Regions from separate parts of the Homo sapiens genome. Here region 1 is linked to region 2. The links come from fine-mapping of genetic effects on gene expression. Tissue or cell type: whole blood. Region 2 holds a variant in brackets; the other region holds the start of a gene. All regions are shown on one strand. Distances are from middle to middle.

What was found. PIP is the estimated chance that this variant, and not a neighbour inherited with it, causes the effect.
Region 1: EDARADD starts here. The variant in region 2 is fine-mapped to the expression of EDARADD in whole blood (TOPMed, PIP 0.99).

Annotation. Positions count from the first base shown.
Region 1 is chr1:236,389,804-236,397,909 of GRCh38, reverse strand. EDARADD (EDAR associated via death domain) reads right to left here and starts at 3,624. Exons shown (of 6, transcript NM_145861.4): 1 at 3,405-3,624. The coding sequence starts at 3,465. RefSeq lists silencers at 2,343-2,752, 7,910-8,086 and an enhancer at 2,953-3,002.
Region 2 is chr1:236,116,366-236,124,471 of GRCh38, reverse strand. No RefSeq gene overlaps it. Among named protein-coding and RNA genes, the nearest start is that of GPR137B, 22 kb to the left of the region's middle. RefSeq lists an enhancer at 3,675-3,794. The variant C/T (reference allele first, on the strand shown) is at 3,277.

The DNA.
Region 1 (8,106 bases), 270 kb before region 2:
GATGTCTCCTGTGGGTTGCAGAAACGAAACAATATGTTAGGAAGGGGAAATTGGGGTGTGTGTGTGCGCCTGTGTTTAAATGGAGGAGCGCTCATTTTATAGACAGAATAGAGTCCCAGAGCGGGAATGGACATTTGGATCATCTTTCAGATGGTCAAGTATGTTCTTCAGCATCCTCTGCCAACTGGTGGGGAGCTCTCACCCTTAGGAGGCCTCCTTTCTCTTTGTAGGAAGCCCAAATCCATCTCTCTCTAAAGTTTTCACCGACAGGTTTGGGTTCTACCTCTTGAAGTCAAAGAGACAGATTCTTTCCACATGACGCCCTCTTATCATCATATCCTCTGTCCTCTCACTCCTCCACATGTCCTGGGATTTTGAAATCCCTTTGTTCCATGTTGCCCATTTGTTCCAGGTTGTGCACATCCATTTTGGCTGGGCTGGGCAGACTAAGAACACCATCTTGGGAAATCTGGAACCTGTAGCTTTTTATTTATTTATTTATTTATTTTGAGATACAGGTTTTTGCTCTGTCACCCAGGCTGGAGTGCAGTGGCTTACTGCAGCCTCGACCTCCTGGACTCAAGCAATCCTCCTGCCTCAGCCCCCCGAGTAGCTGGGACTATAGGTATGCACTGGCACATTTGGCTAATTTTTCTATTTTTTGTAGAGTCAGGGTCTCACTATGTTGCCAAGGCTGATCTCAAACTCCTGGCCTGAAGCAATCCTCTTGCCTCAGCCTCCCAAAGTGCTGGCATTACAGGCCTGAGCCACTGCACCCAGCCACTGAGCTTTTTACACACTGTGGTCACTGCTGAGCTGTTTCCCAGCCCCCATCTTGCCTGGTACTGTCGATTTAGGGGAGCCCAAGTAGATTTTACATTTTATCTCCATGCAGTGTATCTCTCTCAAGATCTTTTTGAATTCCCCCACCCCCCACCCCTGCAATCATCATTTAATGAGATCTGAGGCCACTAGTAGTAAAATCCAGCCTAAAACACCCCTTGGCACCTTGTCAATTCAGTTCTCAGAAAAGGAGGTGGATGCTAGGGTAGGAGTGGAGTGGGATGGGGCAGTAGGAGGGTTTCTCCCTTTGTTTCCCCTTCTGTTTTTTCAAACAATAGGTATGGGGATGGGGAAGAATATCTAGACAATGTATTTATTTTCCGCATCCAATTGATAAAATGTTTAACAATCCCCACTTAAAAAAAAAAAAGGTAGATCTTTCTTTGAAGTTTCCAAGAAACGCCCCCAAACCCAGCCATCACAATGCCAACTTAGTTGTTGGGTGTAGTCTTCTGACCACCTGCAGACACACTGTCTCCTTTTGACTGCTGAAGCCACAATTTAAGGATGGAACATTCAAACTCGGCCCCTGCCCAAGCTCAAGAAATGAAATAGGAAACGCGTTTATCTAAACGGTTATATCAGGTTCTGTGTAACTCTCTTCAGTGTTTCCAACCTCAACAAAACCAAGTAAAGCCCCAGTGTACTCTGAGGGATAGATCATTCATTCGTGTGTTCAAGAAACACCCACGGATGTCACCGTCTAGGTTATAGGACAGCGGAGAGAGAGAACTCCAGGAAAGCGAGGTCTGGGACGGATTTTAGATTCACGTGAGAGAATAGAGAAAAATCTCCACTCCGACCTCGGGTACCAACACACAATATTTTAAAATAAAGACAGAACTAGAGGCCATTCTAATCACAGATGGGATCCCACAGGTGGGATCCGCCTCTCGATTCTGCGGATACTATCTGATGAAATAGCTCCGAGGGCCAATGTTTAGACAGACAAAACCATTTCATCAAAGTGCAATGGGAGAGAGGAAGAGGAGTAATGAGAAGGCATGTGAGCGGGGAGAAAGAAAAAGCCCGGGAGGCGAAAACGAAATCCACCCCCTTGCGCCCATTTCTGCCAGAGGTTTGCAGGACGTGTCTCAACCTGGCATCCCGAGTCCAGAACAAAAGCCACGGGGGCTGCGGCATGGGCAGGGGGAAGGCGCGCGGTGGCTGACGCGGGGCAGGGGCCCTGGCGAGCGCGGGAGGGGCGGTCAGCAGCCGCTCGCGGGGCTGGACTGGGAGCCCCGTGCGACTCCGGGTCTGGCGCCTGGGTCGGGGGTGGTTCCCGGGCCTCCCTCGGGGGTCGCCGAGGCCCGGCCTCGATAGCCCTGCGGCTGCTGCGAGCGCCTCCCGAGCTCCCGCCCCGCGGTGCTCGCTCCAGGAGCGGGCGCGGCGCTGTGTCCCTTTACCTGCGCGCAGAGGGTCGTCCGGTGAAGCCATGGCGGCGGGTTAGGGGCAAACGAGCGTCCGAGCGGGGCTGGCAGGCCTCCGGGGCGCGGGAGGACCGTGGGACCACGGGGATGAAAAGTCCTGCGGTTCCGACGCGCCTGGAGCAAACCGTGGCTCTGCGCGCCCCTGCCCTCCTCCGCCTTCCCCTCCCTTCTTCTTCTCCTCCTTCGCTTCTTCCACGAGCTCACTTCCTGCTTTGGCAATTAGCAAAGCCCCTTCGCTGCGCGTCCCTCGGTACCTCCCTCCAGAGGCGCGGGGCGGGAGCCGGGGTGCCGCGACCCGGGGCTGGGACGCAAGGCGGGGCCCCGAGTGTCCCGGGCGTCCCCAGCGCCCAGAGCGCGCGTCCTGCCCGGTACCCACGTCCCCCTGGGCGGGTCCTAGCGGGGGGCTGACACGACTGCCGCCCGGGACAGACTGCGAGCGAAGGACTGGCCTTAAGAAACGGCTGCAGTCGCGGGTCGCTTTCCTGGCTCCCTACTCACGCCCTCAGCTGAGACACCAGAACTCCCCTTACACAGGCCTGGGCTGAGATGCCCGCCGGCGATCTGATATTTAGACAAATTTCCTGATCTTTAAGCAGGCTCTGCCGCTGCATGATGGCACACGCTGGTACTTTCTATTTTGATTTTTCTTTGGCATTAGTTACTACATGACCTCCAGGGTGAGTGCTGCAGAAAAGGAGTGAACAGAAGTCGCCCAATACACACTCACAGCTTCTCTAGAAAAAACAGCTTCGGGTTCTCTCAGAAAAGATGGCTTCAAATATTTAAAATATTACGCTTAAGTGGGGTTTTATACCCATTACTTAAGTGAGAACACGTTGGAATTGGTTATGAAGAATATATTTAAGATTGCTACATTTTAACTAAAGCTATCATCCATCATAAGCCTATTATAGGAAGGCGACAGGCATTTTAAATTAAATAGGAATCTTTGAAGAGCTCTAAATAATCTTTCTCTGCCTTCACACATAAGAACAGAAAGATAAAAGTCGGGTCGAAAAAGATAATAATAGTATTTAGTGTATAATATATCCAAGAATTATCGTAAATAAGCAACCTCTGGCTAAAAACTCAGCTCTGAGAAATCCAGGAAGACAGCAAATGCCTACATACCCTCTTGGTGACCAGGAGCTTTAGTGCCTCTCCCCATCTGTTTAGTCGTCCTGAGGCCCATGGCGATGTTGAGTTTGGCTTCTTAATTCTCTGGAGTTTGCCATGGAAGAAGCAACAGATTGCGAGAAGATGCTCGCTGGTTGTCTGGCCAGAGTCAAACCTTCTAGATGAAAGCTCTCTGGGGAATTTGTAGGTGGGAGGATAAACTTCCTCTTGGTCTGCCTTCGGATAGGAAGGGAAATTTTTTTTAAGGGTATTTTATCTTAGAATCAATTTGGAGGTTTGGTTTGTGGTTCTTTCTGTACTTCTCATGGAGATGGAATTATTCTGACGTTGGCCGTCAGGAAACACTAGTTGAGTGAGCTTGTTAGCAGCCCAACCTCAAGCATTGCTATAAAGCTGGTTTGCTTTTTGAAACTCTGAAATGTAATTCATGTTTTTATCATTCCCATTCTGCATTATATCAAATAGAAGATGGTGGTATATTTTAAGGGTTTTTTTTTTTAAGGAAGATTGACTAGTTACGTAGTTATTACTCCCTTTCATTTTCATTTCCTCGTGCCTCCTTTCCTATGAATTGCAACGATCCCCATCATTACCTTTATTTTTCCCATGTGCTTTGCGAACTATAAAGTATGACGCAAATGGGTGCTATTGTTGTTTTGCACTTTACAAAAAAAGTAATTTAAAAATGATTCGCATTCACCAGAGTTCCCATACAATCAATTTGCTGTCACAATGTCCTTCAACTTTTATTTCTTTTGCTGTCCAAGAGTGTTTTAAACCACTATTGAAAATAGACATTTTTGGGCTGGGTGCAGTGGCTCACACCTGTAACCCCAGCACTTTGGGAGCCCAAGGCAGGTGGATTATTTGAGGTCAGGAGTTCGAGGCCAGCCTGGCCAATGTGATGAAACCCCACCGCTACTAAAAATACAAAAAACTTAGCTGGATTGGTGGCACATGCCTGTACTCCCAGCCACTCAGGAAGCTGAGGCAAAAGAATCGCTTGAACCTGGGAGGTGGAGGTTGCAGTAAGCTGAGATTGCACCACGGCACTCCAGCCTGGGCGACAGAGTGAGACTCTGTCTCAAAAAAAAAAAAAAAAAAAAAAGAAAGAAAGAAAGAAAAGAAAATGGACATTTTTAACATTTCCCGATAGTACCCAAACACTCAATCTCAGAGTCATGTGAAAAATTTCATATTTCCATAACTTCACTGCTCTTTGAGTGACCTCCAATTTTCCTTTTCCAATAAATGGAGATAGTGCATTTGGTAATCATGGAGTCAAATATGCTGGATTTCGCTGATGGACCTGTCACTCTAAGGTTGTGTTACATTAAGTAAGAAACCAAAACTGAGTCTGCAAGTGTCTGCAGGATTGTGAGAATTCACTGAAATAATGTTTATGTGAAAATACTGGCTGGGCATGGTGGCTCACACATGCAATTTCAGCACTTTCGGAGGCCAAGGTGGCAGGATTGCTTGAGGCAAGGAGTTCAAGACCAGCCTATGCAACATTTTGAGACCCAGTCTCTACAAAATAATTTAAATATTAGCTGGATCCCAGCACTTTGGGAGGCCAAGGTGGGTGGATCGCTTGAAGTCAGAAGTTCGAGATCAGACTGCCCAACATGGTGAAACCCCGTCTCTGCTTAAAATACAAAAATTAGCTGGGCGTGGTGACAGGCACCTGTAATCCCAGCTACTTGGGAGGCTGAGGCAGGAGAATCACTTGAATCCAGGAGGTGGAGGATCAGTGAGCTGAGATCATGCCACTGCACTCCAGCCTGGGTGACAGAGTGAGACTCCATCTCAAAATAAATAAATAAATAAATAAATACAAATACAAATACAAAAATTAGCCAGGTGTGGTGGCAGGCACCCAACTACTTGGGAGGCTGAGGCAGGAGAATCGCTTAAACCTGGGAGGCAGAGCTGCAGTGAGCTGAGATTGTGCCACTGCACTCCAGCCTGGGTGATAGAGCAAGACTCTGACAAAAAAAAAAAAAAATTAGCTGAGCATGGTGGTACATGCCTGTAGTCCCTGCTACTCTCGGAGGGTGAAGCACGAGGGTCACTTGAGCCAAGGAGTTACAGACCTCAGGGAGCTATGATCAGACCACACCACTGGGTGACAGAATGAGACCCTGTCTCCAGGCAAGCAAACAAACAAACCTAAACTAAGGCCTGTCATATAGTAGGTGCAAATAAACCAGCTACTTTCCTACCTTCATTCTTTCCTTGGAATTTAGTTTATTGAGAGAAGCTCCTATTGCCTTAGTTATAAGAAGTCAACCAATATTTATTACAGTGTTTGTACACAGCATGGAGCAATGGATTGATTGGTTTCATTCATTAATGCAATTTTAAAAATCTCACCCCCTCCCCATGAACAAAACAAAATTCCAAGCCCTGGGGAAATCCAAATGAGAAGTCCCTGACTGTTAGGAGTTTGTGGTCAAAAGAGATTTGCAAATACTGTTTTGCTATAGTACTGGAGAAATGAAAGTTTAAACCAGGAAAGATGTGTGTGTGGAAGGAGGCACTGAAGATGTATGGAAGCAAAGTGGCTTGGTCATGACCATCTCGGATTGACAGGGAAAGTTTCAGGCAAATTCCGAGGCTTTAACTCATGGGCACAAGGCTGCAGCCGTAAGTGTGGAAAGGACTGTTGGTCTCATGTCTTTTCACAAACAGATGACAATGATCAGAAATGTGCTGTTTTAAATGGGGGAAACAACAACTCAAAATATATTTTGTTTGATTCATCACAGAATACATGTTTTTGCTTATTTTATGCCATTTGAGGTAAGTGTTACAGTGAAATTTCTGCAATCTAAAAAGTTACATTATTGAACCACATGTGTCTTACTTCAAAGGATATGTACATTCCATACAGATAAAACCCAGCAAACTGGGCTGCTCAAGTGGGACTGATCTACAGAAAAGTGGCTAGAACCACGATGGTAAAATATAAATTTAGGAACATAAGAGACCCTATGCCTCAGAATGTGCCAGTTCCTACAGTTGAATTTGCTTGATATACCCTTAGTGAATCATATGTGATGGAAGATGCCCCAACAAGAGTTACTAAGTTTCCATGTCTCTGCATTTTTGGAACAGACAGTTGTTAAATTTTGCCCAGAGTGCTTTAAGGCAGTTGTACTAACTTCTGGTAATAGTGTCCAAGTTTTCTTCTTGAGAATCACTGTTCCCATCCTCAATCCAAGCAATTAGGTGGTGGCGACATCACCCCTGACTCCTGAGTCCAGGGGCTGGAATATGACTCAATTACAGCCTTTCAGGGCATTGCTACAGTGAGCCACTGAGTGGAGGAGGTGCGTGGGATCTTTACAGGGACAGGGGGACCGGTCTTAAAATAATTAGCCCAAGCTGGGCGTGGTGGCAGGCGCCTGTACTCTCAGCTACTTAGGAGGCTGAGGTGGGAGAATCACTTAAACCCAGGAGGGGGAGGTTGCAGTGAGTTGAGATCACACCATTGTACTCCAGCCTGGCGACAGAGTGAGACTCCATCTCAAAAAATAATAATAATAATAACAACTAACCCAAGAGCACACAGGTGGTAAGTGGTAGAAGGAAGGAGCAGGAGTGAAACATTTAGGAGGCTCTAGACTACTGACCTTCTTGAATGCCAGACAAAAGCATCTGAAACTAGTTTTTAGACAACAGGAAGCCAGGAAGCTAGTTTTTGAAAAGTGGCATGAGAAAATTGGTGTTTTGGAAGATTAATCCAGCAGCTGTGTGTAGGATGGAACAGAGCTAGGAGAGAATGCAGGGAGAGACCCTTTAATCCTTTTGATACACTGTAATTTATTAGAGTTGAATTTACATCCTCATCCAAATGCAGGAGAAACATATCAGAATTTTTTTTCCATACGTTATTGGGGTACAGGTGGTATTTGGTTAATGAGTAAGTTCTTTTTTTTTCTGAGACGGAGTCTCGCTCTGTCCCCCAGGCTGGAGTGCAGTGGCTGGATCTCAGCTCACTGCAAGCTCCGCCTACCAGGTTCACGCCATTCTCCTGCCTCAGCCTCCTGTAGCTGGGATTACAGGCGCCCGCCACCACGCCCAGCTAATTTTTTGTATTTTTAGTAGAGATGGGGTTTCACCGTGTTAGCCAGGATGGTCTTGATCTCCTGACCTCGTGATCCGCCCGCCTCGGCCTCCCAAAGTGCTGGGATTACAGGCATGAGCCACCACGCCCGGCCATGAGTAAGTTCTTTAGTGGTGGTTTGTGAGATTTTGGTGCACCCATCACCCGAGGAGAATACAGTGCACCATATTGGTTGTCTTTTATCCCTTGCCCCCTCCCACTCTTCCCTCAAGTCCCCAAAGTTCACTGTATCATTCTTATGCCTTTGCATCCTCATAGCTTAGCTCCTACACATCAGTGAGAACACACGATGTTTGGTTTTCCATTCCTATCAGAAAATATTAAATCTTCTTTTGCTACCTTCTTGTTTTTGAGACAGGGTCTTGCTCTGTCTCCGAGGCTGGAGTGCAAAGTGTAGTGGCATGATCACAGCTCACTGCAGCGTCGTCGTCCTGAGGTTCAAGCAGTCCCTCCACCTCAGCCTCTTGAGTGTCTGGGACTACAGATGTACCCCACCACGCCTGGCCAATTTTTTTATTTTTATTTTTTGTAGAGACAGGAGTCTCACTACATTACCTAGGCAGG
Region 2 (8,106 bases):
GCAGTGAGCTGTAATGGTACCATTGCACTCCAACCTGGGTGACAGGGTGAGACCCCAGCGCTTAACAACAACAGAAGAGTAGTCAGGAAGGCAGCTTCCATCCCCAGGCATAGCTGGAGAATTCCTGGGGAGAGGGTCAAGGGGCTCACCTTAGGGTGAAGCCTCCTTCACCCCCTTCTGCATGGAAACTCCTTGACAGGTGGTTGGTTCAGCCTATGCCCTTGTAGCAGCACAGGGCTTGGCTCTAAACAATCAAGACAACTTCTCTAGTTGAACATATTTGAGAAAAGCAGGGCTAGGCAAGGTGTGCTAGTCGGCTTGAGCTGCCATGACAAAGTGCCACAGACTGGGAGGCTTGAATGACACAAATCTCCAGTTCTGGAAGCTGAAAGTTGGAGGCCAAGGCGTTGGCAGGGCTGGTTTCTCCTGATGCCACTCTCCTTGGTCACAGACAGCCTCCCTCCCCTGGGTCCTCACATGGGCTTCCCTCTGTGTGTGTCAGTATCCTAATCTCCACTTCTCATCAGGACCAGTCATATCCGATTAGGACCCACACTAATGGCCTCATTTTACCTTAATTACCTCCTTCTATTTGGAGAGAAGGCCCTCTCTCCAAATACAGTCACATTCTGGGTACTGCGGGTTAGAGCTTCAACATGTGAATTCCGGGGGAAGTACCCAGCCTGTGACACAAGGCTCACCAGGTCATCTGAGGTGAGTGGTGGCGGAAGGGAAGATTGCCTGTGATCATCATTCCTGCTGCTCATTGGCTTCTCTCTCTGTGCCAGGCTCTGTTCTATGTACTTTTCATGCAGTCAGGAAGTAACTCCTATTATCCTTGTAACGACCAATGAACTGACACTTCCCAGGAAGAGCAAAACAAAACAAGGCCCAAGTATCCGGATTGGTCTTGGACTGGAACAGGAAAGATGCAGGCAGATGATGGTTCACTGGAGTAGGCCCTGTTCAGCGTGTGCTTTCATCCGTCTGTAACACACATTGCAAACTCACCTTGTTGCTTGTCCAATGTGTTGGTTTCAAGATCATTAGTTAATCAAATCCACCAACAGATTTACTAAATGTACTGAATTTACTAAAGATTTACCTGGTGTTGGGCATGGAGCAAGACAGTTGGAAAGCTTGCAAGGGTAAGACATGATCCTGTAGGGGAAGTGCTTTCATGGTTACTTGTAGGCAGATATAGAAACTCTGGAAAATAGAAAGAGTGAATAATACTGAGTATTTGATCACACACTGAGGACTGTGGTCCATAATGGTTTAATTGTATATTTTAAAATGGCAGCCAGGCGCAGTGGCTCACGTCTGTAATCCCAGCAGTTTGGGAGGCCGAGGCGGGTGGATCACCCAAGGTCAGGAGTTCGAGACCAGTCTGGCTAACGTGGCAAAACCCCGTCTCTACTAAAAATACAAAAATTAGCCAGGCATAGTGGCGGGCGCCTGTAGTCCCAGCTACTCGACAGGCTTAGGCAGGAGAATTGCTGGAATCCGGGAGGCAGAGTTTGCAGTGAGCCGAGATAGGGCCACTGCACTCCAGCCTGGGCAACAGAGCAAGACTCCATCTCAGAAAATAAAGTAAAATAAAATAAAAAAAAAAAATAAACTCTGGAATGCTATGAATAAAACCAATAGTAATGGTTAAGGGTGGGACCTGGGGAGGTGTGGACAGAGGAGCAAGGGAACGTTGTCACTGTATGCATTTTGTATATTTTTATTTTTTTGAGTTGTTTATCTACTTGGCCTGTTCACAAAAATTATGTTGAGAGGGACAGAGAGACAGAGTGTTTGTCAGACATGAGCCCCTCCTCAAGGGGCTTATAACTAGTCACGTTGGCATTAGGCCTTGGCTTTAACAACACAGCAAGGCTAAAATGATTTCACTTTCTCCAGGCAAGAGCCTATGAGAGTAAATGGGACTAGAACCATGATCCTTACTTTGCAAGTAAAGAACTGAGGTCAAGAGAGAGCATGTGGATACGACCCCATGGTGAGTCGGGGTTCACGCCTGAACACAGGGAAAAGTCCCTGATTCATCATTTGAAACCCTCTTCACTGCGTATGTGGTTGGCCCTTTGAGAAGTTGATGGAAGTTTCTGTTAAAGTCATTCAAAGAATATGTTTTGAGTCAAAATGCCCATGGTCCCTGGCCTCTTGGGGTTCACATTTTAGTGGAGAAAATAAGGTAGATACTCAAATGAGCCTATGAGTACACGTTGTAGTAAGTCCGATGAAGAGGAAAAAGAGATGCTACGAGGAGGAATAGCCAGGGACAACACTTGGGCTTGGGTGGTCAGGGGAAGCTCTGGCTCATTGACATTCAGCTGAGATCCACCGAGCTACGAGAGGGCTGTTGAGGTGTGGACAGGACTGTAAAAGGGAAGGGTCATTCCTTGAGCCCAAAGCCTGTGGTCTTCTAATACAATGTCATTCGTGGGTTCCCTGTTGGCTCATCAGCTACCAAGCTTGGTACCAGGCAATTTGGGATAGGATGAAAACAAAGTCGAAAACATGCTCTTTGACCCCAAAAAACTTACCTCCTAATTGGAGAAGTGAAAATAACCCAGAAACAACCACAGAGTGCTTTAGAGAGTCATGGGATATGGCCGGGCATGGTGGCTCACGCCTGTAATCCCAGCATTTTGGGAGGCTGAGGCGGGTGGATCACCTGAGGTCAGGAGTTCAAGACCACCCTGGGCAACATGGTGAAACCCCATCTCTACTAATAATACAAAAATTAGCTGGGCATGGTGGCGCGTGCCTGTAATCCCAGCTACTCGGGAGGCTGAGGCAGGAGAATCGCTTGAACCCGGGAGGCAGAGGCTGTGGTGAGCCGAGGTCGTGCCGCTGCACTCCAGCCTGGGCAACAACAGCAAACTCCATCTCCAAAACAACAACAACAAAAAAGAGTCTTGGGTTAGGGGAGGAAAGAAGGAGAGATGCAACCAGGTGTGATTGATTTAGCAGGTGGAAAAGTGGGGAAGGCCTACCAGGCAGAGAATCGAGGTGGGTAGACTAGTCTCGTGGAGACAGACCATGGTCCTGGAGTCATTGATGTTGAATCCCAGCTCCTCCGTGTGCCCGCTGGGTGACACTGGGCAAGTTATTTTTTCTGTCCAAACTTCAGTCTTCTAATCTGGAAATCAAGTTATGTTTTCTACTTCTTATGTGGCTGCAAACATTAAATGAAGTAAGATGAATGTAGGATTTTGGAGAACGAAATGCCTGTGGCCCACAGCTGCCTACGATGTAGGGGTGGCA[C/T]ATCTCCCGGGGGGCGAAGCTGGGTGAATTTCCAGTGTCAGCTGCAACCACCAGCTCAGCCTCCTGCTTAGTAACCATCTTTACGACTACAGACAGCAGTCCTCATCTCTGCCCCCTAATTAGCAGTCCTAACTAAGTGATAGGTGGGTTTGGTGGAAACCACACACAACTACCGAGGAAACCAGCTGGGTTTGTCAAAGGAAACCAATCTCCCTGTCCCTCTCCGTGCCCCTCTCTGTTCCCCTCTCCCTCCCCACTTCTCTTCCCTTTCCTTCTCTGCAGTGACCTAGGATCTCACTCAGTACAGCCGGCTTTCAAAGAACTCTAGGCAGAATCGCTCTCTCCTCGATGAGTCAAATCTAAGGCCATTTATCTCAACCCGTAACGTGAAAATAGTGAAAATCAAGAGTGAAACAGAAGTTGTTTCCTCTCGAGAATCAAGAGTGAAACGAAAGTTATATTTCCTCTAGAGAATCAAGAGTGAAATGGAAGTTGTTTCCTCTAGAGAAGCCCCTTGAATAACTTGGACATTTCTATCAGCAACCGTCTTCTAGAATCAGGTCACAATCAAGGGTGAGGGGAGAAGTCTGTGATTCCCAGCACCATGAGAGGATGCAGCCACCACTTTGATACCTTGGAAAATGTGGATCAGTTTAATCTGAAAAATGTTGAACAATCTTCAAACACAGATGTCCCCACTTTCTGGATTTTCGGGTTGAAAGAGATGGAAAATACTCCTTTGTTTTACACCTGAAGGCTGCTGGGCCTTCTGAGATCTGCTAGTCAGCGGCAGATGTAGAAAAAACCAGGACTCAAGTTTTCTGATGCAGAGATGTCTTTCAGCCGCACCGCTCTGCCTGTGTCTCGGTCTGGTGTGGGCTCATCTAAAGCAGCAAGCTCTCGTAGACTGTGATCCGGAGGCGGGAAGCATCCCCCTCTCCACCCTCCTTAAAATGCCTCCCCCTAAGAAGTCTTTCTACTCCAGTCCAGGATTACAACACTTACTTTATTTCCTTTATTTTCTTAGGACCATGCAGAGACTGCGTACATTTCCTCTAAGGCTTTGTCACCCCGTGAGGTCCCTCAGTAGAAAGGATGTTTACATAGTGGGAAGGGTCAGAACTTTCCAAGACCTGATGTCCAGTCCTTACTCTGCCCCTTACTGATTTTCACTCCATCGAGACAATGATCTCTTTTCTAGAGCAGCGCACATTTATTTATTCATTGTCCAAATATAAGGTACACTAAGCACTGAGACATAAAGAGGACAAGCAAGACCTCCCCGACGCCCCTACCCCTGCTTCCAGGACCTTGCTCTGTTGTGGAGACAGATGGGCACACGGGCAACTACATCATATGTTCTAGGATAAAGCGACCATGTATGCAGAGACAGGGAGGCATGAGGCAGCCTGGGCTTCCAGCACTGGGACTGCAGACGGTTCTACTGCAGACTGTAAAGGGGTGGAGTGGGATGGGGATATTGTTAGAGGTCACCAGGGGCCAGATGACAAGGGACATCCTATATCTAACTAAAGAGGTTAGATGTTATCATGTCAGCTCAGGCCGCCCTTGTAGACTTGAGGGCAGGATCACACTTTCCTGGTAGAAAGATCGTAGTTGTCTAATTAGCAAGGCCAGAGGCAGGCAAACCAGGCAAGTGCTTATTGAAACGTTGCAGGGAGTGAGGATGAGTTCCTGAGGCAGGAGAAGGAGAAGCCTGAAGAAAAGAACCTGCTTGAGTCCAGGAGTTCGAGACCAGCCTGGGCAACATAGCGAGACCCTGTCTCTATCTAAAAAATAAAATAAAATAAAAAGGGGAGACTAATTTAAAAACATGAAAAGAGGCCGGGTGGTAGCTCACGCCTGTAATCCCAGCTACTTGAGAGGCTGAGGCAGGAAAATCGCTTGAGCCAGGGAGGTGGAGGTTGCAGTGAGCCGAGATCACGCCATTGCACTCCAGCCTGGGTGACAGAGCGAGACTCCGTCTCAAAACATAAAAACATGAAAAGGGGCCAGGCACAGTGGCTTACGCCTGTAATCCCAGCACTTTGGGAGGCCGAGGCCCGCAGATCAACTGAGGTCAGGAGTTCAAGGCCAGCCTGGCCAATGTGGTGAAACCCCATCTCTTACTAAAAATACAAAAATTTAGCCTGGCGGGTTGGTGAGCGCTTGTAATCCCAGCTACTCGGGAGACTGAGGCAGGAGAATTACTTGAACCAGGGAGGTGGAGGTTGCAGTGAGCCGAGACCTACCCCTTACTGATTTTCACTCCATTGAGACAATGATCTCTTTTCTAGAGCAGCGCACATTTATTTATTCATTGTCCAAATATAAGGTACACTAAGCACTGAGACATAAAGAGGACAAGCAAGACCTCCCCCACGCCCCCGACCTCTGCTTCCAGGACCTTGCTCTGTTGTGGAGACAGATGGGCACACAGGCAGCTACATCATAAGTTCTAGGATAAAGCAACTGCTGTCCAGCCTAGGAAACAGAGCGAGACTCCGTCTCAAAACAACAAAAAGAAACAAAACAATCAAACAGAAAAACATGAAAAGAAAAGGACAAGAAAACACCCAAGAATTAGTAGTAGGAAACTCAAGACAGAGAGTATTATGGAAACCTGGGGAGGAGATAATTTCTAAGAGAGATTGGAAAACAAGATTGTCAAATGCTGCAGACCAGAAACAAGACAAGACCAGGAAGCAGCCCATGAAACTCAGCCCCCAGGAGGCCTTTGACAGCCTGAAGGGAGTCAGTTCCAGGACAGCCACGGGCAAAAGCCAGAGTGCAAGTGTTAAAGAGAAAACACAAAAGCAAGGTAAGGAAGAAAGCCTCAGTTTCCTCACCTGACGATGAGGACGGCAATAAAATGTTATGAGACTATGGATTCAAAAGCTTCAAAAGCTTACCCACGGATGATTAAGAAGTTCCGGAGCTGGATGGTGGTGACAGTTGCAACGACATCGTGAAGGGACTTAAAGGCACTGGATTTTACACTTAAAATGATTTAAATAATACATTTTGCCTTATGTATATCACCCCACTGAATTGTACACTTAAAATGATTTAAATGATACATTTTGTCTTATGTATATTTTACTGCAATTTTTAAAGGGGAAGAAAAGCTTACAGAAAATGGCAGTGTTCTGTGCAGGTGTTGTTTATTTATTTAGAAGGCTAAGAAGGAGAGCTCGTGCTGAAAGCTTGGGAGAGGTAAGGGGCTGAATGATCAGGAGTTTCAGGTGTGGGGAAAGCGCAGAGGAAAGGAGGCCACACCCCGCTCAGGTAACAGGTCCAGGCTGATCCCTGATAGGTGTCGTAAGATATCAGAGTCAGAACTGACTGTGGCCCCGCAATCGAAGTGTCTTATTTTGCCAGGGAGGCTAAAGGGAGAAGGGGAGGCAGCGACTTCTCAGAAGCAGCACCGCCATCCTCACCTAGGTATAGGGTCCTCTGAGGACCAAATGAGAAACTGCTTGTGAAAACCCTGGGTGAAATACTGCATACTAGAGGATCAGGAGGTAGACTACCATCAGCGTCCCCCGACCTTACAATGTTGCATTGTAGTAATTAATACAATATGAAATCATTTTTATGTTATTGAGAAGAATTTGGAAAATATAGAAAACCATGGAATAAAATTAAAAATAATCATTGTTGGCCAGGCGCAATGGCTCACACCTGTAATCCCAGCACTTTGGGAGGCCGAGGTGGGCGGATCATGAGGTCTAGGAGTTTGAGACCAGCCTGGCCAATATGGTGAAACCCCGTCTCTACTAAAAATACAAAAATTACCCGGACGAGGTGGCTCGTGCCTGAAGTCCCAGCTACTCGGGAGGCTGAAGCAGAAGAATCACTTGAACCCGGGAGATGGAGGTTGCAGTGAGCCGAGATGGTGCCACTGCACTCCAGCCTGAGTGACAGAGCGAGACTCCATCTCAAAAATAAAAAATAACCATTGTCTCTCAACTTGACACTTTTTTTTTTCTTTCTGGAGACAGGGTCCTGCTCTTTTGCCCAGGCTGGAGTGCAGTGGTGAAATCATGACTCACTGCAAACTCTGCCTCCTGGGCTCAAGCAATCCTCCCACTGCAGCCTCCCTAGTAGCTGGAATCACAGGTGTGCACCATCATATCTGGCTAATTTTTATAGTTTTTGTAGAGACAAGGTTTTGCCATGTTGCTCAGGCTGGTATCGAGCCCCTGGGCTCAAGCGATTTGCCCACCTCGGCCTCGAAAAGTGTTGGGATTACAGGCATGAGCCACCCTGCCTGGCCATGATAACCTGAACAATTTGATAATGTGACTTTCAAATAACTTTTCTTATTATAGCTTCATACTCATATTCATATTCATAATTAAAAATCTGGAAAATACAGAAAAGTATAAAGAAGCAGATATGCATTCCTGGTAACCCCACAGTTTATATGTATTATACCAGACTTACTGATAGTCTTTCTGTAAATGCCCTTTTAAAAATTATGGTATATTGGCCAAGTGTGGTGGATTATGCCTGCAATCCCAGCACTTAGGGAGGCTGAGGTGGGTGGATCACCTGAGGTCAGGACTTCGAGACCAGCCTGACCAATATGGTGAAACCCCATCTCTACTAAATACAAAACATTAGCCAGGTGTGGTAGTGCATGCCTGTAATCCCAGCTACTCAGGAGGCTGAGGCAGAAGAATCGCTTGAACCTGGGAAGCAGAGGTTGCAGAGAGCCGAGATGACACCATTGCACTCCAGCCTGGGCAACAAGAGCAAAACTCCATCTCAAACAAACAAACAAACAAAAACAGTATATTTTACATAACCTATTCCTTCCACTAA